Linked DNA regions of Homo sapiens. The protein of the gene in region 1 interacts with the protein of each later gene in a biochemical or structural test. Each region holds a gene or a part of one and is shown on either strand. Other genes may lie near its edges.

The links.
Region 2: the proteins of GOLPH3 (region 1) and GOLM2 form a complex in vitro, tested with the Homo sapiens proteins (one study listed by BioGRID).
Region 3: the proteins of GOLPH3 (region 1) and TPST1 form a complex in vitro, tested with the Homo sapiens proteins (one study listed by BioGRID).

The regions. Positions count from the first base shown.
Region 1 is NC_000005.10:32,123,351-32,130,488, reverse strand, and holds the end of GOLPH3 (Golgi phosphoprotein 3), read left to right. Parts: intron 1-3,852; coding exon 3,853-4,277; 3' UTR 4,278-5,773; downstream 5,774-7,138. UniProt on the Homo sapiens protein: Phosphatidylinositol-4-phosphate-binding protein that links Golgi membranes to the cytoskeleton and may participate in the tensile force required for vesicle budding from the Golgi.
Region 2 is NC_000015.10:44,290,703-44,298,718, reverse strand, and holds part of GOLM2 (protein GOLM2), read right to left. Parts: intron 1-8,016.
Region 3 is NC_000007.14:66,284,318-66,292,333, forward strand, and holds part of TPST1 (protein-tyrosine sulfotransferase 1), read left to right. Parts: intron 1-2,193; coding exon 2,194-2,392; intron 2,393-8,016. UniProt on the Homo sapiens protein: Catalyzes the O-sulfation of tyrosine residues within acidic motifs of polypeptides, using 3'-phosphoadenylyl sulfate (PAPS) as cosubstrate.

The sequences.
Region 1 (7,138 bases):
GTGACAACATAAACATATTAAGTCAGTGATACCAAATTAGAGTTGATAGGGGATAATACTTCTTTGATAACAACAAATTATTCTTTACATAATTAATTAATCTTAGGATTGAACTGTAGTTTTTTAAATAGGCTTTTATGTAAGTTTGGCTGTTTATTATTTTATGTTGCATTAGTTTAAATTTCCCTAAGTCGTTTAACACAATAGTTACCCAATTCCAGCCTAGTGTCTTAGGCTGCCTAACACCTGCCATTGACATTAGAAAAAGCAAAACTCATACTAGTGAAAGATGCAGCAGTTATTTATTGGTGGGACATTGGGTTTACACAATTATAAAAAAATGGAAGTGGCTGGGTGCGGTGGCTCATGCCTGTAATCCCAGCATTTTGGGAGGCCCAGGTGGGTGGATCACGATGTCAGGAGATCGAGACCATCCTGGCTAACACGGTGAAACCCCATCTCTACTAAAAATACAAAAAATTAGCTGGGCATGGTGGCAGGTGCCTGTAGTCCCAGCTACTTGGGAGGGTGAGGCAGGAGAATGACGTGAACCCAGGAGGCGGAGCTTGCAGTGAGCCCTGATCACACCACCGCACTCCAGCCTGGGCGACAGAGTGAGACTCCGTCTCAAAAAAAAAAAAGGGTGGAAGTTACACACTTTTGAAAGATGTGTGCCTCTACTCCAGGGCTTATTCTATTCTGCTGCCTATGTACTTTGTTGTTTCTTTTGCCTGGAATTCAGGCTTCTCTCCCTTTCGTAGGATGTGGTGAATCCTGCTGGATTTCGAGATTTAGCTTGAAGATTCTTTTTTTCTATAACTTTCCTATGAAATACCCCATAACATTAAACCAGAGTCATTTCTTACTCCTCTAGGCACTTTGTTCATTTTGTTCTTATGGCCCTATTCCCATTTTCTTCTGGCCAGTATAGTTAGTTCTAATATGTAATATATTATGAATGTTATTTTCACTTGATTTTAAATTCCTACAGGGTTAGAAGTATATCCTAATGTTTGTATTCTCAGTACCTAACAGGATTCTTAGAACATTATAAATACTATAAATTCTGCCAGAATGTTTATTCTGCACATGGGCAAATAATAGCTAACATTTACTGAGAGCTTACCATGTGTTAGGCTTCGTTCTAAGAACTTGATATTTAATCCTCGTAATAGCCCTATGAGCTTGATAAATTTGTTACTTTCACTTTATAGATGAGTAAATGGAGAAATAGATTAAGATGACTTGCACTAGGACACTAGGGTTTTTTTGGTTTTGTTTTTTGGGGGTTTTTTTGTTTTTGTTTTTGAGACAGTCTTGTGCTTGTCACCCAGGCTAGAGTGCAGTGGTGCAATCTCGGCTCACTGCAACCTCCGCCTCCCGGGTTCAAGCGATTCTCCTGCCTCAGCCTCCCGAGTAGCTGGGATTACAGCCACCTGCTACCATGCCTGGCTAATTTTTGTATTTTTAGTAGAGACAGGGTTTCACCATCTTGGCTTCCCAAAGTGCTGGGATTACAAGCGTAACCCGCCATGCCTGGCCCCGGCTAACTTTTGTATTTTTTGTAGAGACGGGATTTCACCATGTTGCCCAGGCTGGGACTGTTTCTGTTGACTCCCCCCTTACCCCTAGTTTTAGGTCACTTTTTTGCTGCTTTGCAAGTTTAGTGATTTTTTTTTTTTTTTAACTTCGATGCTGGACAGTGTGAATGTTAAGTGATGAATTTTATGGTCTTTCTTTAAAGAGTGTTGAATTTTGTCTTGGTAGGCAGCTAAGTTACTTGTGGATCAACTTGTTTTTAATTTTTTGTTTTTGTTTTTAAATTGTGAGATGGAGTTTCACTCTTGTTGCCTAGGTTGGAGAGCAATGGCACGATCTCGGCTCACTGCAACCTCTGCCCTCCCCCGGTTTAAATGATTCTCCTGCCTCAGCCGTCCGAGTAGCTGAGATTACAGGCAACTGCCACGATGCCCGGCTAATTTTTTGCAGTTGTAGAAGAGATGGGGTTTCACCATGTTGGCCAGGCTAGTCTCGAACTCCTGACCTCAGGTGATCCACCCGTCTGGGCTACCCACAGTGCTGGGATTACAGGTTTGAGCCACCGCGCCTGGCCGCTTTTAATCTTTATTAGGGCATGTCTAGGGTGGTCTATACTCTAGGACTGGTTTAGCCCTACTACTAAGATGTGAATTTTCTAGTATTCCTTCTGAATGTCCTGGTTTTTAGTGAGGCTTTTGCTCTCTGGCTAGTTGGCAATCACATTTTTCCCAGCTCTACTGAACTCTTAGAATTGTTCACTTTCTGGTAGGTGTTCTTTGCCTAGCTTTGTGGAATTTCTCACCCTAACACATGTAGCTTTAGCTTTCAGCCCAAGACTCAAGGAACACCTTGCAGATTTCTAGACCTCTTTATCTGTGTAGGTCCCCCTTCTCCAGTAGTCTGCTTTGCACACTGCAGCTGCCTTAGCTACCCTGAACTCTGATCTCTGCTGCCTTAACGTGATGGGACTGCTGTGCTCTGCTTGGGTTCTTCCTGCCTGCTCTGCTGCCTGGGACGTGCCTCTAGGTGGTAAGCTTAGGCAGTTGTCAGGCTCACATAGGCTGCACTCAAGTGTCACAGTTCTGGGCTGCTTTTGACTAGTGTCTGAAAACAGTTTTTTCGTATATTTTATGGAGATTTCTAATTACAATGAGAGGGCAGCTTTAGGAATGATTACTTCATCATAGGCCTATGTTGTTTAGTATTAAGTATAGGAAAATAATTGTGTCTCTGTCCAGTTGAATGGTAATATATTTTAAGACAGCAACTTAAAATTTTAAGATAGTCCGCTAGAACTTTCTTTGATGATGAAAATGTTCTGTTCCTGTGGGGTGTAGCCACTGGCCATACGTCACTATTGTATACGTGAAATGTGGCTAGTGCCACTGAAGAGATGAATTTTTAAATTAATTTAAATAGCTCTATGTGGGTAATGGCTCCTGTAATGGACAGTGTGGCTGAAGGTTTTCTCTCAGTATTAGAAAATCTCGACCTTACAACGTTTGCATTTAAAAAAGATGCCTGTGGTTGATCTTTAACATATTCTAATTTAGAAAAATATAGTTTTTTTAAGTATAAAAATAGTTGCATGTTCATTGGAGATCATTTGGAAAATGCAGAAAGCACAAAAAAAGTTGAGCACACATAATCCCAAAGATAAGTAAGATTAATATTTTGGTGTATTTCCTTCCAGTTTTCTATAAAGAAGAACCCACTTTAGTGAAAAATCGTTTGGTTTTATTTTAAATATTTCTCTCTCAAAAGGAAATATGTATGGATGGCAAGGTTAAAATTGTGAAAATTTGTATCCTTCCAGAATTAGCTTTATATTGTTATCAAATAATAGCATGGCCTAAACAGGCTTTCCTACCTCTATAGGCTGTATATGTGTAGCAGTTTCAGGAATAACATATTAATCAGGAAGCTTTTTTTTTTAGTCTATTAGTTGCAGACTGGTGTTTAATAGAAAACTTATTTGGCTATTGGCTGCTTTTTGACTTCAGCTGGAAGGAAGCTCAAACATAATATTTGGCTCATTTCCACATAAGACTAAGGGTTACTGACTCTGGTCTGAAGACTGCTTGCAGTTTAGTCGTCTGAGTGACTCCTGTGGCTGAGGATGTGCTGGGTGCTTAGAATCCAAAGGTCTGGCTAGGCTTAAGGGGTTCATGGTCTAGTTAGGGAGAAAAACATGGCAGATTTTCTTCTGTTTTTCTTGGGGCAAAATCAGATTTTACTGTTTAATAGTACAAAATTTTTGCAAAATTAGCAGATAATACTCATCATTTCTAACTTCTGAAATCTTTTGTTTAGGTGAGACATGGAATCCATTAAAATTGCATTATCAGTTAAGAAATGTACGGGAACGATTAGCTAAAAACCTGGTGGAAAAGGGTGTATTGACAACAGAGAAACAGAACTTCCTACTTTTTGACATGACAACACATCCCCTCACCAATAACAACATTAAGCAGCGCCTCATCAAGAAAGTACAGGAAGCCGTTCTTGACAAATGGGTGAATGACCCTCACCGCATGGACAGGCGCTTGCTGGCCCTCATTTACCTGGCTCATGCCTCGGACGTCCTGGAGAATGCTTTTGCTCCTCTTCTGGACGAGCAGTATGATTTGGCTACCAAGAGAGTGCGGCAGCTTCTCGACTTAGACCCTGAAGTGGAATGTCTGAAGGCCAACACCAATGAGGTTCTGTGGGCGGTGGTGGCGGCGTTCACCAAGTAACTCTGCTCGGGGTGAACCATTCTCCTTTCTCTCAAGTAAACCAGTAGTTTTTCTTCTGTTGACTTCTGGTTTTCTGTAATTTGTACTTTCCCACACTATAATTGGCTTCTGTTTTACAAAATGGTGGGTGGCTTTTTCTTTTTTGTACGTGTACAGGATTCTGCTGGTACGAGAGGCCTTCCTCTTTCTGTTTTTAAAAAAAGTTTTACTGCCATATTGGCATTCCATTCCCTGTTGCCATCCTCACTGTTACCTGTTTTGGGTTTCTGGTCTACTTTGACTTTCAAAGTACCTCCAGCCTCCTCATACGCACAGCTTTTGGATGACCTCAGCTTGAGTTTCTCCATATGTGCATGTACATCTAGCATTCTGCCTACAGTTCAGACAGAAGTCACAAAAAGGCCTTCAACTCACCAAAGGTAAATATCTGTATCTATTAGGACATTTTTTACATAGACTTCAGTTGAGATGTATACTTAGCAAAATTATTTTTAAATTGAAACAGCACAGTAAATACTTAATATAAAATGTCCCTTGGATTTTGCTTCCCATGTAAATCTATTGTATTATTACACTTGTTATAATTTTAACTATAAAGGTCCAATTGTTTCACAGAGCCAGTTTGGGATGGGCTGCATTCCATTTATGCTGTATATAGTTTGAATTATATATAAATTACCCCTTCTTCTGGCCACCCCTGCTCCCATCTTAGTATTTTGCAAGATCTAATCAGTTGTACACCTGGTGCCCCTCGCTTGCTTCAATCATGGTTATTTGATGGCAAAATCGACCTCTTGTCGCTGAAGGAGAGAGAAAAGATGTGTGTCTGATTGGTCCTGGGATTTTTTGAGCTGTGCCATTTATGGTACTCTTTGCCTATGCATCCCCTTGTTAGATTTTTTTTAAATTTTATCTTACTGTTTTTATAATTTCTATTGGGAAGAGGCTTGTGACCAGTACCAATCTTGAGTTTCTTTTTCTGTCCACAAGTAAATTAATATCTGCTCTGAAATGTCATTTATCTACTCACACATTCTTGGGGAAAAAAATCAAATGTCAGTCCTAGCAGATGTTGCATGTAAATTGGTAGCAAGTAATGATTACAACCCAGAGGATTAAGAATTTTGTAACAGAAAGCTCTATGTTTTAATTTTTTATATACAATTAGGATAATTAGCATTGTCAGACTATAAACCTTTGCTTTTTAAAGTTTATTTTTACTATTTCTTTATCACTTTATTGTATCATCACCATTGGTTTCATAATGTAAATACTATATGTTGAACAAATTAAATGTCAAAATTTTTTATTACCATAGTCCATGTTAATAGTGGGGCTTTCAGGTGTTTAGAGATTTTTTTTGTTGTTGTTAACATTCATTGCAAAAGTACTAGATGGTGTATAACTCTAGAGTTGAATTTTAAGGGATTCCCTAATATGTATACTATCTTTTTATCTGAAGTAATAAATAAACAATGATCTTGAAAGTGCCTGAATCAGAGCAAGCATGTCATTTGTGTTTTTGTATTCTCATTTAGTTTTCTTTCAAATGAAATGTTACTTACTGTAGCATTGTAATATTTTAATGCAGGGCTTGGGTTTCTTAAAGGGCCAGATAGTAGATATTTTAGGCTTTGTGAGCCGCCAGCTGTGTCAGTTGCAACTACTGAACTTTACTGAATGAAAACTGTTATAGATAATACAAATAAATAGGTTAGACTGTGTTCCAATAAAACTTTATTTGCAAAAACGGGGCTGGTCAAGGCCCCAGTTTTAATGCATGGAAAAAAGACAGATTTTTCTATCCATTGGAGTAACCTTCTTTACCTTCAAAAATGATACTGCTGGTGGTAACTACATGTAGGAACTATTAAAGTGTCTTCCCATAAAGTAGATATTGGGAAACTGATACCAGTATACTGGAATTTCTTATCGAGTGAAAAGTTCCTGTTTTTCACTTGAGAAGATGTTAGAGGTGAGGTAATAGATTTCTGAGGTATTCACTTCATCAGCAGCATCAGTATTCCCAAGCAAGGGGGAAAAGGACCTCACCTGAACTTCTGTCAGTGTTTGCATTAGACCAGAGTGCACACTTAGCTCTACCTGTGTGCGGCCCCAGCTTCAGTGTGTTTCTATTTCCAGAGGAGGAGAAGAGTAGTAAAATCTCGGGGGGGTTGTAGTGGTGTTATCAAGAACTCTTTGTCCTATGGAATATTGTTGCTTTCAGTCCTCTTGAAAGCAGGAATGATGTGACTCCATGGAAATAAGTATTGTCTGTGTTAAGAGCAGTACTTCCACGGGTTTATGCCACTTTGATTAAAAGCCTTTACATAGATATCTATTGTGTAGAGAAGTAGTAGTTGCTGTTTCTTTTTTGGTGGCTTCATATGTTTTGTAATTGGCTGAGTGTTCCTTAAAATAACCTGATTGGTACAATGTACTAACAGAAGCTTACTAAGCGCATGCTATTTTATATCTCATTTTTACCTCCCCAAATTCCAGTTACTATCTTCACTTTGTGAAGAACAATCTCAGAGGAGAATTCGCTCAGTGTCACATTATCTACTAACTGTTCGAGCTTTTAATGCTAAGGCGATTGAGGAACAGTGATGGCATTCAGCTACAATTGTTTCTTTCTTAATTGGGCACTTCCTTTCCCTGACAGAGACAGAATAGGCATGCAAAATACTCTCATGGCATTGCAAAATAAAAAGATTAAAGAACATCTCTATTCTAATATCTTGGTATAACTTGCATAAATTATCTTTTGGGGATGAAAAAGTTGACCAGTTCTGTGTGTTCTCAAAGCAGAATTGTCTAATGACCAGGAAAGTCCCTGGCCTCCTGAAGCAAGGTTGACC
Region 2 (8,016 bases), on another chromosome or scaffold:
AAACATAGTCCTTCCTCAAGGAACTTAAAATTTCGTTGAGAAAACGAAGTTCACAAACAATAAGCTATTAGTAAAAAATGAACAAAATAAGTTAATGAAGCTCAAACAATAAATGTAAATGGTGTATAAAGAAGGAAAAGCATGGCTGGGAGCAGTGGCTCACACCTGTAATCCCAGCACTTTGGGAGGCCCAGGTGGGTGGATCACCTGAGGTTAGGAGTTCGAGACCAGCCTGGCCAATGTGGTAAAACCCCATCTTTACTAAAAATACAAAAAAAAAAAAAAAAATTAGCCGGCCATGGTGGTGGGTGCCTATAATCCCAGCTACTTGGGAGGCTGAGGCTAGAGAATCACTTGAACCTGGGAGGCGGAGGTTGCAGTAAGCTGAGATCGCGCCATTGCACTCCAACCTGGGCGACAAGAGCAAAACTCCATCTCAAAAAAAAAAAAAAAGAAAAAGAAAAGAAGGAAAAGCATATTCCAGGTCAGAAGTCCCAGGGGGCTTCATAGTGGACATGGATCAGAAGCTGGATAAAAGATTGGTAGAATAGGCCAGGTGTGGTGGCTCATGCCTGTAATCCCAGCACTTTGGGAGGTCAAGGTGGACGGTTCACAAGGTCAGGAGTTCGAGACCAGCTTGGCCAACATGGTGAAACCCCATCTCTATTAAAAATACAAAAAAATTTAGCCAGGCCTGGTGGTGCGTGCCTGTAATCCCAGCTACTCAGGAGGCTGAGGCAGGAGAGTCGCTTAAACCCGGGAGGCGGAGGTTGCAATGAGCCAAGATTGCGTCACTGTACTGCAGCCTGGGCAACAGAGCAAGACTCCATCTCAAAAAAAAAAAAAAAAAAGGCCAGGTGCGGTGGCTCACACCTGTAATCCCAACACTTTGGGAGGCCAAGGCGGGTGGATCATGAGGTCAGGAGATCAAGATGGAGACCATCCTGACTAACATGGTGAAACCCCTTCTCTACTCAAAATACAAAAAATTTAGCTGGGCCTGGTGGCGGGTGCCTGTAGTCCTAGCTACTCAGGAGGCTGAGGCAGGAGAATGGTGTGAACCCGGGAGGCGGAGCTTGCAGTGAGCCAAGATCACACCACTGCACTCCAGCCTGGGCGACAGAGCAAGACTCTGCCTCAATTAAAAAAAAAAAAACAAAAAAAAATTGGTATAATAAATATACAGAAAAGAGGCAAGAAACTAAGAGTCAAACAGCAGGAACAAAGGCACAGAAACAGGAATTAACATGACACAGAAAGGCAGGTGGGAAGGCAAAAGTAAGCAAAACAATCAGCCTGAAATACAATTTGGGTCAGGAGATAGTGGGAGACAAAGGTAGCTAGAGCCATTCTATGGAAGACCTTAAAGATGAGACAGCAGAATTCTAACCTGATGTAGTCAGTGAGTCATACAGCCACTCTGAAAATAAGGTTTGAGGAAGTTCAGGCTGGCTTCACAGGAGAACTGACAAAAAGAAATGGAGACCAAGGAAAGGGGACTAGTTAGGGATCTGCCAAGTTCTCTATTCTGCAGTCAGAATGACGTTTTTTTTAATTCGATCAAGTAACTCCTCTGCATGTTGAAGCACTCAATATGATACACTGAAGGAATCAAAGACAACACCAAATTTCTAACCTCAGTCTTAAATAACAGTTGCATGGGCATCATTTATAGGAACCAAGAAGGTAGGAAAGGGATATCGTTTGGAAGAGTTATCAGTTTTGATTGGTTTATGAATAATTTGAGGTAGAAATTACAGTTAAAAGTTGGCCAGATTATGGCTGGTGAGGCAGAGGCAAAGGCAGGAATTATCATGTGCAGCATATTAGAACTGTAGAAGGTTGATACTCAAATTACAGAAGAACAGGCAAGCTCTAGGGAGTCAGCTAAGACACCTATGGGAGGAGCCAACTAAGCCTAACTGGAAATGAACCAGGAAACTGAAAACAAGCAAATAACAAAAACAGTCAGACATTCAGGAGCAAAGGGTGAGGCAGGTAGGCTAGGGCTGGGACCAGATCTTGGGCAGGAACACAGACAGAGTCCCATCCTGGAAAAAAGGCAGAAAAGAAATAAGGAAGTAGCTGTAGAATAACAATGTAGTAGGCACTGTTTTAAGAATTTTAATCAATTTACTCAAACCTCTCAAGAATAAGAGAGACTACTATTATATTCCAAAATTTTCCCCCAAAAAGCATTTTTTTGTAATACGCTTCTCATCCTCCTTTCTGACATATGACCTTTTCCCCATTCAACTAAAGGCATAGGCTGCCTCAAGGAAAATTATGGTTGTTAAAGGGAAAAAAGGTCATTTACTATTCAGCTTCAAACCTCAAAACTGATGTGTGTGTATGTGTGTGTATGTGTGTAATAAAACGACAATTTTGAGGACTTTTTCTACATTCTAACAGCTCCTTTTATTTATCAAGAGCTTGACGTGCCACAGCTGGACCACATAGCTTTAGTATGAGCTACAGTTTGCAAGAATCCAAGTTTAGGAGCCAAGCACAGTGGTGCACACCTGTAGTTTCAGCTACTCAGAAGGCTTAAACAGGAGGACCTTCACTTGAGACCAGGAGTTCCTGGCTGTGGTGTGCTATGATCACACCTATGAATAGCTACTGCATTCTAGCCTGGGCAATGTAGTAAGACCCCATCTCTTTAAAAGACAAAGAGAGAGAGAATAATAATCAAAGTTAAGAGACATGCCCTGTACTGAGGAAAGAGAAATAAGGACTTTTCTGATAAAAGAGGAAATAAAAGGGTGTCTGTGTGTGTGTGTGTGTGTGTGTGTGTGTGTATGTGTGGTGGATCTCCCTTGTTCTAAGATGAACTGTGTTTCCCCCAAATTCACATGTTGAAGTCCCAGCCTCCAGGATCTCAGAATGTAACTGTATTTGGAGACAAGGTCTTTAAAGTGCTTAAGTTACAGTGGGTCTAATCCAATATGACTCGTATCCTTTTAAGAAGAGGAAAAGACACCAAGGATGTGTGCATACAGAGGGACTATCATGTCACAATAAAGCAGCAAGAAGGTTGCCATCTGCAAGCCAAGGAGAGAAGTTCAGAGAAAAACAACCCTGCTGGCACCTTGGTCTTAGACTTCCAACCTTCAAAAATGTGAGAAAATAAATTTCTGCTGTTTAAGCCACCTAGTCTGTGGCATTTTGTTATGGCAGCCCTAGCAAACTAATACACCCCTCCAGGCTGAAACCCTTTAGAGGGAAGTTTAAAAAATCAGAAAGTTTGAGGGAATCTCAGAGAAGTGGGGGTTGTTTCTCACTTCTTTGGACAAGACAGGAGCAACTTAAAGCTCCCTTAAAGAATTTCCATGTTCAAGGCCGGATGTGGTGGGTCATGCCTGTAATCCAGCACTTTGGGAGGCCAAGGTGGGCAGATCACTTGAGGTCAGGAGTTAAAGACCAGCCTGGCCAACATGGTGAAACCCTGTCTCTACTAAAAAATCAAAAATTAGCCAGGCATGGTGGCATGCACCTGTAGTCTCAGCTACTCAGGAGGATGAGGCAGGAGAATCACTTCAGCCCGGCGGGTGGAGGTTGAAGTGAGCTGAGACTGCGCCACTGCGCTCCAGCCTGGGTGACAGAGTGAGGCTCCATCTCAGAAAAAAAAAAAAAAAGGAATTTATGTGTTTAGTAACCCAGGTAACAGACTGGAAGTGACAGAATGGCATAATAATGTGAAAGAAACCAAATATCACCTTTCTGATTCCTCTGGAGAAAGGATTCCTTGATTTCCAAAGATAACCTTATAGTAGCAACGAGCATATCTGCCAAGCAGACCTTGGTTTCTTTTTTTTTTTTTGTGAGACAGAGTCTTACTCTGTTGCCCAGGCTGGAGTGCAGTGGCACAATCTTGGCTCACTGCAACCTCTGCTTCCCAGTTCAAACGATACTCCTCCCAAGTAGCTGGGATTACAGGCGCCCCCCACCATGCCCGGTTAATTTTTGTTTTTTTTTGTGGTGGTGGTGTTTTTTTTTTTTTTTTTGAGATGGAGTCTCGCTGTCCTCCAGGCTGGAGTGCAATGGCGTGATCTCAGCTCACTGCAACCTCTGCCTGCCGGGTTCAAGCAATTCTCCTGCCTCAGCCTCCCAAGTAGCTGGGACTACAGGTGCGCACCACCATACCCGACTAATTTTTTGTATTTTTAGTAGAGACGGAGTTTCACCATGCTAGCCAGGCTGGTCTCGAACTCCTGACCTTGTGATCTGCCCACCTCGGCCTCCCAAAGTGCTGGGATTACAGGCGTGAGCCACCGTGTCTGGCCCAATTTTTGTATTTTTAAGTAGAGATGGGGTTTCACCATGTTAGTCAGGGTGGTCTTGAACTCCTGACCTCAAGAAATCCACTAGCCTCAGCCTCCCAAAGTGTTGGGACTACAGGCGTGAGCCACCGTGCCCAGCTGCAGACCTTGGTTTCTAATGCCATTCTCCAATAAAAGGAACCAAGGTTCCTTGGAGAAATGGTTGACTCTAGGGCTGGAGTAGGAAACGTATAGATAGGCCTAGAGCATCTAAAAGTACCAAAAAGTAAGAAAGGGGTATGTCACAATGAAACTGGGTGTAGGGTATGTGGAAATTCTCTGTACTTTCTGGCACTATAAAAGTAAGAAGGGGATACAGGAGTTAATGAAGGAGCTCTCCAACAGCCAGAGCCAGAACAATTTGAGCAACAAAAAAATAAACTAATATTGGATTATAAGCCAAAGTACAAAATAAATATCCATGAGTCCATACCGATACAAGTAAATTATTAAGTTAATAAATGAGGGAGAAGAGACAAATCTCCTTTGCAGAAGAATTCCATATAGTTTATGTTGATACTCTGTCCTTAAGGAGGAAAAACATAACTACCCACTCATTAAGTGAGGGTGAACATACTTTCTTCCAAAGTGTACAGTATGGAAACAGATTTTTTTTAAGAGTACATTATAGTGGAGAAACCTGACAAGCACTATCTCACGCCAGGTGATAGAGGTTAACATAAGTAGTGATAAATCATTTTGAAAAACATACCCATGTTATGATGTGTTGAGATTGGTACTTTACTTCTGTGGTCTTTGTCCGAAAACCCACAACTCCAGTCTAATCCTGAGAAAAGACTCAGACAATTCCCAATTGAGGGACATTCTATATAAAACACCTAATCAGTAATCCTTAAAATTGTCAAGATTATCAAAAACAAGAAAAGGTCTAAAAAACAAGGAAAGGCTGAAAAGAAGCTTCAGAAGACATAATGTCTAAATGTAACGTAACTCTGGATGAGATCCTGGAATTAAAAAAGGACAGCAGGCGAAAACTGAAGAAATCTGAATAAAGTACGGACTTTCATAATAAGATATCAATACTGGTTCATTAATTGTGACAAATGCATCATACTTATGTTAAGATGTTAATAATAGGGAAGACTGGGTGTGGGGTATATAAAAACTCCCTGTACTATCTTTGCAATAATTTTCCAGATCTAAAACTGTTAAGTGGCCAGGTATGGTAGCTCACACCTGGCACTTTAGAAGGCCAAGGCAGGAGGATCACTTGTTTAGTTTTCCAGATCTAATTTTCCAATAATTTTCCAGATCTAAAACTGTTAAGTGGCCAAGTATGGTGGCTCACACCCAGCACTTTAGAAGGCCAAGGCAGGAGGATCACTTCAGGCCAGGAACTGGAGACCAGCCTGGACAAGATAATAAGACCCTCATCTCTACCAAAAAATAAAAAATTAGACCATCATGGTGGCATGCACCTATAGTCCCAGCTACTTGGGAGGCCGAGGTGGGAGGATCGCTTGAGCCCAGGAGTTTGAGGCTGTAGTAAACTATGATCGCACCACTGCTCTCCAGCCTGGGTGACAGAGCAAGACCCTGTCTCAAAACAAACAAACAACAATAACAATAAAAAAAACCCTGAAAAACTGTTAAGTTTAAAATACAGAGACCAAGACTACCCTTTCTACTAAGCAGCTCAGAGAGTCCTCATTAACCCCAAGAACAGACATTCACAAGCAGCCCAAGAAAGTTGTTATAGCCAGCTCAAAATACAGAAGTGGCACACCAAGTGCTGTGGCACACACCTAGAATCCCAGCACTTTGTGAGCCCAAGGCAAGATCACTTGGAGCCAGGAGTTTGAAAGCAGCCTGGGCAACATAGCAACACCCTATCTCTACAAAACTAAAAAAAGAAAAAACTTTTAAAAATATACAGAACTAGCCGGGTGCGGTGGCTCACGCCTGTAATCTCAGCACTTTGGGAGGCCAAGGCTGGTGGATCACGAGGTCAGGAGATCGAGACCATCTTGGCTAACATGGTGAAACCCCATCTCTACTAAAAATACAAAAAATTAGCCGGGCATGGAGGTGGGCGCCTGTAGTCCCAGCTACTCAGGAGGCTGAAGCAGAGAATGGCGTGAACCCAGGAGGCGGAGCTTGCAGTGAGCCGAGATCACACCACTGTACTCCAGCCTGCTTAACCGAGCGAGACTCTGTCTAAAAAAAAAAAAAAATATATATATATATATATGTATGTATACACATATACACACACAGAACTGACATTCAATAAGAGATACAGTCTTGTGAGCCAGCTGCATAAAATATTAGCCAAACACTTAAAAGTAGTTAAGATACCCAGGGCAATATTTCCCAAACTAGTGGGCTTTGCTATATTATTCTGTGCCATAATAGGTAGGCCATGAAAATAGTAACCTGTGATCAAATAAACTAAACAAGACTGAGTTAAACAAAATTGAATAGCCTTCTTTATTAATGGATTTCTCAGAGCTTTTATATTCCAGCAGGCATTATGAATTCCAAGAGGAGGATACACTAACATTTCCCTCCAAAAAAGGTTTTCATTTTTTTCTCCTCACCACCTAAGAAATATTACAAGAAGGGTATTCTGTTTAACACTACTTTGGGGAATACTGCTCTTATGGGAGAGCAAAGGCTCAATAACAGAGTCCCTTACTAGGTGACTGGAAAGAAAAAATAAATCCAGCAAAGAATATAGTGAAGAAGATAAGACTGGAGAGTCCAGTATAACAGAAGCAAGAAAGAAAATAGTTTCCAAATAGCTAGAGACAATCAACAGGATCAAACTACTGGGAGGTCAAATACAGTAAGAATAAAAATATTCTTTGGTTTTGACTAGGAAGACTGCCATTTGTGACCTTCAAGAGAATAGTTTCAAAAAAGGGGAGGAAAGAAAGATGGCAGACATTTTAAGATTAGGATGGTTATGAAAAAATAGGTAGATGGAACATTTGTAGACCATCAATAATTTGACTTTAGCAATGAAAGTGAAAAAACAAATGGGTTGGTTGGGAGAAAGGAATATACAGATTTTTTTTCCTTTACTGAGAACAGGGGACACCCACATACTGTTGAAGGTAAAAAGTGAAACAAACTGAAAGAGACAGTTCAGTAGAGCTGGGCAAGGTGGTGCACACCTGCAGTCCCAGCTACTCAGAGGCTGAAGCAGGAGGATCACTTGAGCTCAGGATTTCAATGCTATAGTGCATCATGCCTGTGTAACAGCTACTGCACTCCAGCCTGGGCAACACAATGAGACCCTGTCTCTTTAAAAAAAAAAAAAAAAAAAGAGGCTGGGCATGGTGGCTCACACCTGTAATCCCAGCACTTTGGGAGGCTGAGGCGGGCGGATCACCTGAGGTTGGTAGTTCAAGACCAGCCTGACCAACATTGAGAAACCCCTTCTCTACTAAAAATACAAAATTAGCCAGGCGTGGTGGTGCATGCCTGTAATCCCAGCTACTCAGGAGGCTGAAGCAGGAGAATTGCTTGAACCCCGGGGGGGCGGAGGTTGCAGTGAGCTGAGATCACGCCATTGCACTCCTGCCTGGGCAACAAAAACAAAACTCCGTCTCAAAAAACAACAACAACAACAACAACGACAACAACAAAAAGTCCAATGGATGAAAGAATGGAATCAAGAGTATTAATTACAACAAGAGACTTTCCTTTGAGACCAGAGAGAAGAATG
Region 3 (8,016 bases), on another chromosome or scaffold:
TTCTCTAGATTTTTGGTGACCTTCTGATTACTATTAATTTACATTTTTTTTATTGTTCTCTACATGTCAAACAAAACAAAGCAACAATATCAAAAACCCACATGCTTTTTCTTCATACTGTCTATATTATTGAATGACAGACAAACATCTGTCCTTCAAGTCAAATATTAATTAATCATAGACTCCTTTCTCTTTTTCTTCACCCCGCCTTATCTAATTGGCCACTGTCTTAGCTTTTTTTTTTTTTTTTTTTTTTAAAGATGGAGTCTTACCCTGTTGCCTAGTCTGGAGTGCAGTGGTGTGATCTCGGTTCACCGCAACCTCCATCTCCTGGGTTCAAGCAATTCTCCTGCCTCAGCCTCCCAAGTAGCTGGGATTACAGACATGCACCACCACACCTGGCTAATTTTTGTATTTTTAGTAGAGATGGGATTTCGCCATGTTGGCCAGGATGGTCTCGAACTCCTGACCTCAAATAATCCACCCACTTTGGTCTCCCAGTGTCTTAGCAGTTTTAAAAATTATCTTTGGAATTTGTCTCATCTCTATTTCTAATTCATTTAATCTAATTGAAGCCTTAATCATTTCTTTTCTTCCAACATGTTGAGCATCTGTTCTGATTTTCCTGACCCCACTTGCCTCATTCTCCAATTATTCTTCCCATAGTTATCAGCACTGAATGCTAATAATAATACTTTGTTCATATCAGTTGTTATTAAAACTCTTCACTTATTCCTTATTATCTTCAAGGTAAGCCCAGCTTCCCAGTCATGACATACAAGACTCTATGTGTGACCCCAATACTTAACACAGATGTGTTTCAGAATTCAGAATTTTTTGGATTTTAGAAAAGTAATACAGTTTATGCAATACATATATAACATCCTCTGCTCATTCCTGAACACTGATGGGAGTGAATGGCAGGTGCTTTTAATAATTACGCTGAGGTAAATTATGCTAGGTGTAAACTGGACCTGTCCTGGGCAAACGAGGATGTTCTTTACACAGTTTAAGAATGTCAAGCAAAGAACATTAGGGATGAAGCAATACAGGGAGAATAGATAGAGTGAAGGGAGCAGTGGGTTAAGTGGAGTCCTGGAGAAATATTTGAAAAGGGAGAAAGGAATGTGGCTCCTGAGGTAGGAGGGAAACCTGGAGCAGGTAGCCCCACAGAAGCCCAGGGAAGAGGCATTGTTTTTCTATTATTTTGGAAGCAGATCCCCTTTAGGAGACTCCTCATCAGATAATGATTATTCACTAAGAGGTTATATTCTTAATTAAAAGGGCCTTTACCTTTTCTTAGAATACTATGTTTGAATAACTTTTTATGTATTACGATATAAAAGTCTCTTTTAAGCATTTCTGTTTTATAGTCATTTGGCCAAAATCTAATTCAGATCCAGCTTAAATCCAAATGTCATTTGATGCTACATTTTATCCTGAGGTTGCTAGTTATTTAGTCAAATATAGTGAGTATAATCACTACAGGCTTAGAGTAAATTTCCATGTCAAGAGGTAGAACACATTTATTCTGTAATATTGAATCCTGTAATATTGAAAATCAAAAACAGCCCTTTTTTTTCTTCTGTAGAAAATAAGATTTTTAAGGAAGGCAGCAGGAAAATAGAACAAGTGAATATTTTACGTTCTTAGTGGTTTATGGTTGGCAGTTTTCCCCCAACATTTTGTTACGAAAAGTTAAAATGTACAGAAGAATTGAAAGACTTATACCCACCAGCTAGATTGTGCCATTAACATGTTGCTGTATTTACTTTATCACTGTCCATCTCTCTGACCATCTATTTGTCCCTCTTTCCATCCATCAGTCTGTCTTTTTTTTGGTAAGCATTTCAAGTAAGTTGACTGACAATTTTTCTAAGCAGCTGTATCTTTATTTTGTTACTGTTTTTTTCCTGGATGTTGTAATTACAGTGTCAAGACATTTAATAATGCACATGTTTCAGCTAACCCTTTTCCCAATTTCTAGAAATCTGAGATTGCCAATAATCCCTGTCAATCTTAAATTATTTTTTAATTCTGGTAAATAGTGTCAAACCTGATTAGTGCCCTCTTTCTCAATTGTTTTGTAATCCAGACAACTGTTAGTCATTAAAACATAATTTATAGTGGTTTTAAAGCATGATTTTCTAAAAAATTTTAAATAAATATTTATTCATATTATGTTGTTTTCAGAGTGGAGAGATCTACAGACCAAGTAATCAAGCCAGTCAATGTAGGAGCTCTATCAAAATGGGTTGGGAAGATACCGCCAGATGTTTTACAAGACATGGCAGTGATTGCTCCTATGCTTGCCAAGCTTGGATATGACCCATATGCCAACCCACCTAACTACGGAAAACCTGATCCCAAAATTATTGAAAACACTCGAAGGGTAAGTGAGATTTTTTAAAGCAACTGAGAAAACTAGATTTTGAATTTGGGATCTGAATACGTTTTTTTCTTATTTTATTTCTTGCTATTTAATGATCAGAAAAATATATTTTTTTTTTTTTTCATTTATTTTTATTTTATTTTATTTTATTTTTTTTATTATACTCTAAGTTTTAGGGTACATGTGCACATTGTGCAGGTTAGTTACATATGTATACATGTGCCATGCTGGTGCGCTGCACCCACTAATGTGTCATCTAGCATTAGGTATATCTCCCAATACTATCCCTCCCCCCTCCCCCAACCCCACCACAGTCCCCAGAGTGTGATATTCCCCTTCCTGTGTCCATGTGATCTCATTGTTCAATTCCCACCTATGAGTGAGAATATGCGGTGTTTGGTTTTTTGTTCTTGCAATAGTTTACTGAGAATGATGGTTTCCAGTTTCATCCATGTCCCTACAAAGGATATGAACTCATCATTTTTTATGGCTGCATAGTATTCCATGGTGTATATGTGCCACATTTTCTTAATCCAGTCTATCATTGTTGGACATTTGGGTTGGTTCCAAGTCTTTGCTATTGTGAATAGTGCCGCAATAAACATACGTGTGCATGTGTCTTTATAGCAGCATGATTTATACTCATTTGGGTATATACCCAGTAATGGGATGGCTGGGTCAAATGGTATTTCTAGTTCTAGATCCCTGAGGAATCGCCACACTGACTTCCACAATGGTTGAACTAGTTTACAGTCCCACCAACAGTGTAAAAGTGTTCCTATTTCTCCGCATCCTCTCCAGCACCTGTTGTTTCCTGACTTTTTAATGATTGCCATTCTACCTGGTGTGAGATGATATCTCATAGTGGTTTTGATTTGCATTTCTCTGATGGCCAGTGATGATGAGCATTTCTTCATGGTTTTTTGGCTGCATAAATGTCTTCTTTTGAGAAGTGTCTGTTCATGTCCTTCGCCCACTTTTTGATGGGGTTGTTTGTTTTTTTCTTGTAAATTTGTTTGAGTTCATTGTAGATTCTGGATATTAGCCCTTTGTCAGATGAGTAGGATGCGAAAATTTTCTCCCATGTTGTAGGTTGCCTGTTCACTCTGATGGTAGTTTCTTTTGCTGTGCAGAAGCTCTTTAGTTTAATTAGATCCCATTTGTCAATTTTGTCTTTTGTTGCCATTGCTTTTGGTGTTTTGGACATGAAGTCCTTGCCCACGCCTATGTCCTGAATGGTAATGCCTAGGTTTTCTTCTAGGGTTTTTATGGTTTTAGGTTTAACGTTTAAATCTTTAATCCATCTTGAATTGATTTTTGTATAAGGTGTAAGGAAGGGATCCAGTTTCAGCTTTCTACATATGGCTAGCCAGTTTTCCCAGCACCATTTATTAAATAGGGAATCCTTTCCCCATTGCTTGTTTTTCTCAGGTTTGTCAAAGATCAGATAGTTGTAGATATGCGGCATTATTTCTGAGGGCTCTGTTCTGTTCCATTGATCTATATCTCTGTTTTGGTACCAGTACCATGCTGTTTTGGTTACTGTAGCCTTGTAGTATAGTTTGAAGTCAGGTAGTGTGATGCCTCCAGCTTTGTTCTTTTGGCTTAGGATTGACTTGGCAATGCGGGCTCTTTTTTGGTTCCATATGAACTTTAAAGTAGTTTTTTCCAATTCTGTGAAGAAAGTCATTGGTAGCTTGATGGGGATGGCATTGAATCTGTAAATTACCTTGGGCAGTATGGCCATTTTCACGATATTGATTCTTCCTACCCATGAGCATGGAATGTTCTTCCATTTGTTTGTGTCCTCTTTTATTTCCTTGAGCAGTGGTTTGTAGTTCTCCTTGAAGAGGTCCTTCACATCCCTTGTAAGTTGGATTCCTAGGTATTTTATTCTCTTTGAAGCAATTGTGAATGGGAGTTCACCCATGATTTGGCTCTCTGTTTGTCTGTTGTTGGTGTATAAGAATGCTTGTGATTTTTGTACATTGATTTTGTATCCTGAGACTTTGCTGAAGTTGCTTATCAGCTTAAGGAGATTTTGGGCTGAGACGATGGGGTTTTCTAGATAAACAATCATGTCGTCTGCAAACAGGGACAATTTGACTTCCTCTTTTCCTAATTGAATACCCTTTATTTCCTTCTCCTGCCTGATTGCCCTGGCCAGAACTTCCAACACTATGTTGAATAGGAGCAGTGAGAGAGGGCATCCCTGTCTTGTGCCAGTTTTCAAAGGGAATGCTTCCAGTTTTTGCCCATTCAGTATGATATTGGCTGTGGGTTTGTCATAGATAGCTCTTATTATTTTGAGATACGTCCCATCAATACCTAATTTATTGAGAGTTTTTAGCATGAAGGGTTGTTGAATTTTGTCAAAGGCCTTTTCTGCATCTATTGAGATAATCATGTGGTTTTTGTCTTTGGCTCTGTTTATATGCTGGATTACATTTATTGATTTGTGTATATTGAACCAGCCTTGCATCCCAGGGATGAAGCCCACCTGATCATGGTGGATAAGCTTTTTGATGTGCTGCTGGATTCAGTTTGCCAGTATTTTATTGAGGATTTTTGCATCAATGTTCATCAAGGATATTGGTCTAAAATTCTCTTTTTTGGTTGTGTCTCTGCCTGGCTTTGGTATCAGAATGATGCTGGCCTCATAAAATGAGTTAGGGAGGATTCCCTCTTTTTCTATTGATTGGAATAGTTTCAGAAGGAATGGTACCAGTTCCTCCTTGTACCTCTGGTAGAATTCGGCTGTGAATCCATCTGGTCCTGGACTCTTTTTGGTTGGTAAACTATTGATTATTGCCACAATTTCAGAGCCTGTTATTGGTCTATTCAGAGATTCAACTTCTTCCTGGTTTAGTCTTGGGAGAGTGTATGTGTCGAGGAATGTATCCATTTCTTCTAGATTTTCTAGTTTATTTGCGTAGAGGTGTTTGTAGTATTCTCTGATGGTAGTTTGTATTTCTGTGGGATCGGTGGTGATATCCCCTTTATCATTTTTTATTGTGTCTATTTGATTCTTCTCTCTTTTTTTCTTTATTAGTCTTGCTAGCGGTCTATCAATTTTGTTGATCCTTTCAAAAAACCAGCTCCTGGATTCATTGATTTTTTGAAGGGTTTTTTGTGTCTCTATTTCCTTCAGTTCTGCTCTGATTTTAGTTATTTCTTGCCTTCTGCTAGCTTTTGAATGTGTTTGCTCTTGCTTTTCTAGTTCTTTTAATTGTGATGTTAGGGTGTCAATTTTGGATCTTTCCTGCTTTCTCTTGTAGGCATTTAGTGCTATAAATTTCCCTCTACACACTGCTTTGAATGCGTCCCAGAGATTCTGGTATGTGGTGTCTTTGTTCTCGTTGGTTTCAAAGAACATCTTTATTTCTGCCTTCATTTCGTTATGTACCCAGTAGTCATTCAGGAGCAGGTTGTTCAGTTTCCATGTAGTTGAGCGGCTTTGAGTGAGATTCTTAATCCTGAGTTCTAGTTTGATTGCACTGTGGTCTGAGAGACAGTTTGTTATAATTTCTGTTCTTTTACATTTGCTGAGGAGAGCTTTACTTCCAACTATGTGGTCAATTTTGGAATAGGTGTGGTGTGGTGCTGAAAAAAATGTATATTCTGTTGATTTGGGGTGGAGAGTTCTGTAGATGTCTATTAGGTCTGCTTGGTGCAGAGCTGAGTTCAATTCCTGGGTATCCTTGTTGACTTTCTGTCTCGTTGATCTGTCTAATATTGACAGTGGGGTGTTAAAGTCTTCCATTATTAATGTGTGGGAGTCTAAGTCTCTTTGTAGGTCACTGAGGACTTGCTTTATGAATCTGGGTGCTCCTGTATTGGGTGCATAAATATTTAGGATAGTTAGCTCCTCTTGTTGAATTGATCCCTTTACCATTATGTAATGGCCTTCTTTGTCTCTTTTGATCTTTGTTGGTTTAAAGTCTGTTTTATCAGAGACTAGGATTGCAACCCCTGCCTTTTTTTGTTTTCCATTTGCTTGGTAGATCTTCCTCCATCCTTTTATTTTGAGCCTATGTGTGTCTCTGCACGTGAGATGGGTTTCCTGAATACAGCACACTGATGGGTCTTGACTCTTTATCCACCTTGCCAGTCTGTGTCTTTTAATTGCAGAATTTAGTCCATTTATATTTAAAGTTAATATTGTTATGTGTGAATTTGATCCTGTCATTATGATGTTAGCTGGTGATTTTGCTCATTAGTTGATGCAGTTTCTTCCTAGTCTCGATGGTCTTTACATTTTGGCATGATTTTGCAGCGGCTGGTACCGGTTGTTCCTTTCCATGTTTAGCGCTTCCTTCAGGAGCTCTTTTAGGGCAGGCCTGGTGGTGACAAAATCTCTCAGCATTTGCTTGTCTATAAAGTATTTTATTTCTCCTTCACTTATGAAGCTTAGTTTGGCTGGATATGAAATTCTGGGTTGAAAATTCTTTTCTTTAAGAATGTTGAATATTGGCCCCCACTCTCTTCTGGCTTGTAGGGTTTCTGCCGAGAGATCCGCTGTTAGTCTGATGGGCTTTCCTTTGAGGGTAACCCGACCTTTCTCTCTGGCTGCCCTTAACATTTTTTCCTTCATTTCAACTTTGGTGAATCTGACAATTATGTGTCTTGGAGTTGCTCTTCTCGAGGAGTATCTTTGTGGCGTTCTCTGTATTTCCTGAATCTGAACGTTGGCCTGCCTTGCTAGATTGGGGAAGTTCTCCTGGATAATATCCTGCAGAGTGTTTTCCAACTTGGTTCCATTCTCCACATCACTTTCAGGTACACCAATCAGACGTAGATTTGGTCTTTTCACATAGTCCCATATTTCTTGGAGGCTTTGCTCATTTCTTTTTATTCTTTTTTCTCTAAACTTCCCTTCTCGCTTCATTTCATTCATTTCATCTTCCATTGCTGATACCCTTTCTTCCAGTTGATCGCATCGGCTCCTGAGGCTTCTGCATTCTTCACGTAGTTCTCGAGCCTTGGTTTTCAGCTCCATCAGCTCCTTTAAGCACTTCTCTGTATTGGTTATTCTAGTTATACATTCTTCTAAATTTTTTTCAAAGTTTTCAACTTCTTTGCCTTTGGTTTGAATGTCCTCCCGTAGCTCAGAGTAATTTGATCGTCTGAAGCCTTCTTCTCTCAGCTCGTCAAAATCATTCTCCATCCAGCTTTGTTCTGTTGCTGGTGAGGAACTGCGTTCCTTTGGAGGAGGAGAGGCGCTCTGCGTTTTAGAGTTTCCAGTTTTTCTGTTCTGTTTTTTCCCCATCTTTGTGGTTTTATCTACTTTTGGTCTTTGATGATGGTGATGTACAGATGGGTTTTCGGTGTAGATGTCCTTTCTGGTTGTTAGTTTTCCTTCTAACAGACAGGACCCTCAGCTGCAGGTCTGTTGGAATACACTGCCGTGTGAGGTGTCAGTGTGCCCCTGCTGGGGGGTGCCTCCCAGTTAGGCTGCTCGGGGGTCAGGGGTCAGGGACCCACTTGAGGAGGCAGTCTGCCCGTTCTCAGATCTCCAGCTGCGTGCTGGGAGAACCACTGCTCTCTTCAAAGCTGTCAGACAGGGACACTTAAGTCTGCAGAGGTTACTGCTGTCTTTTTGTTTGTCTGTGCCCTGCCCCCAG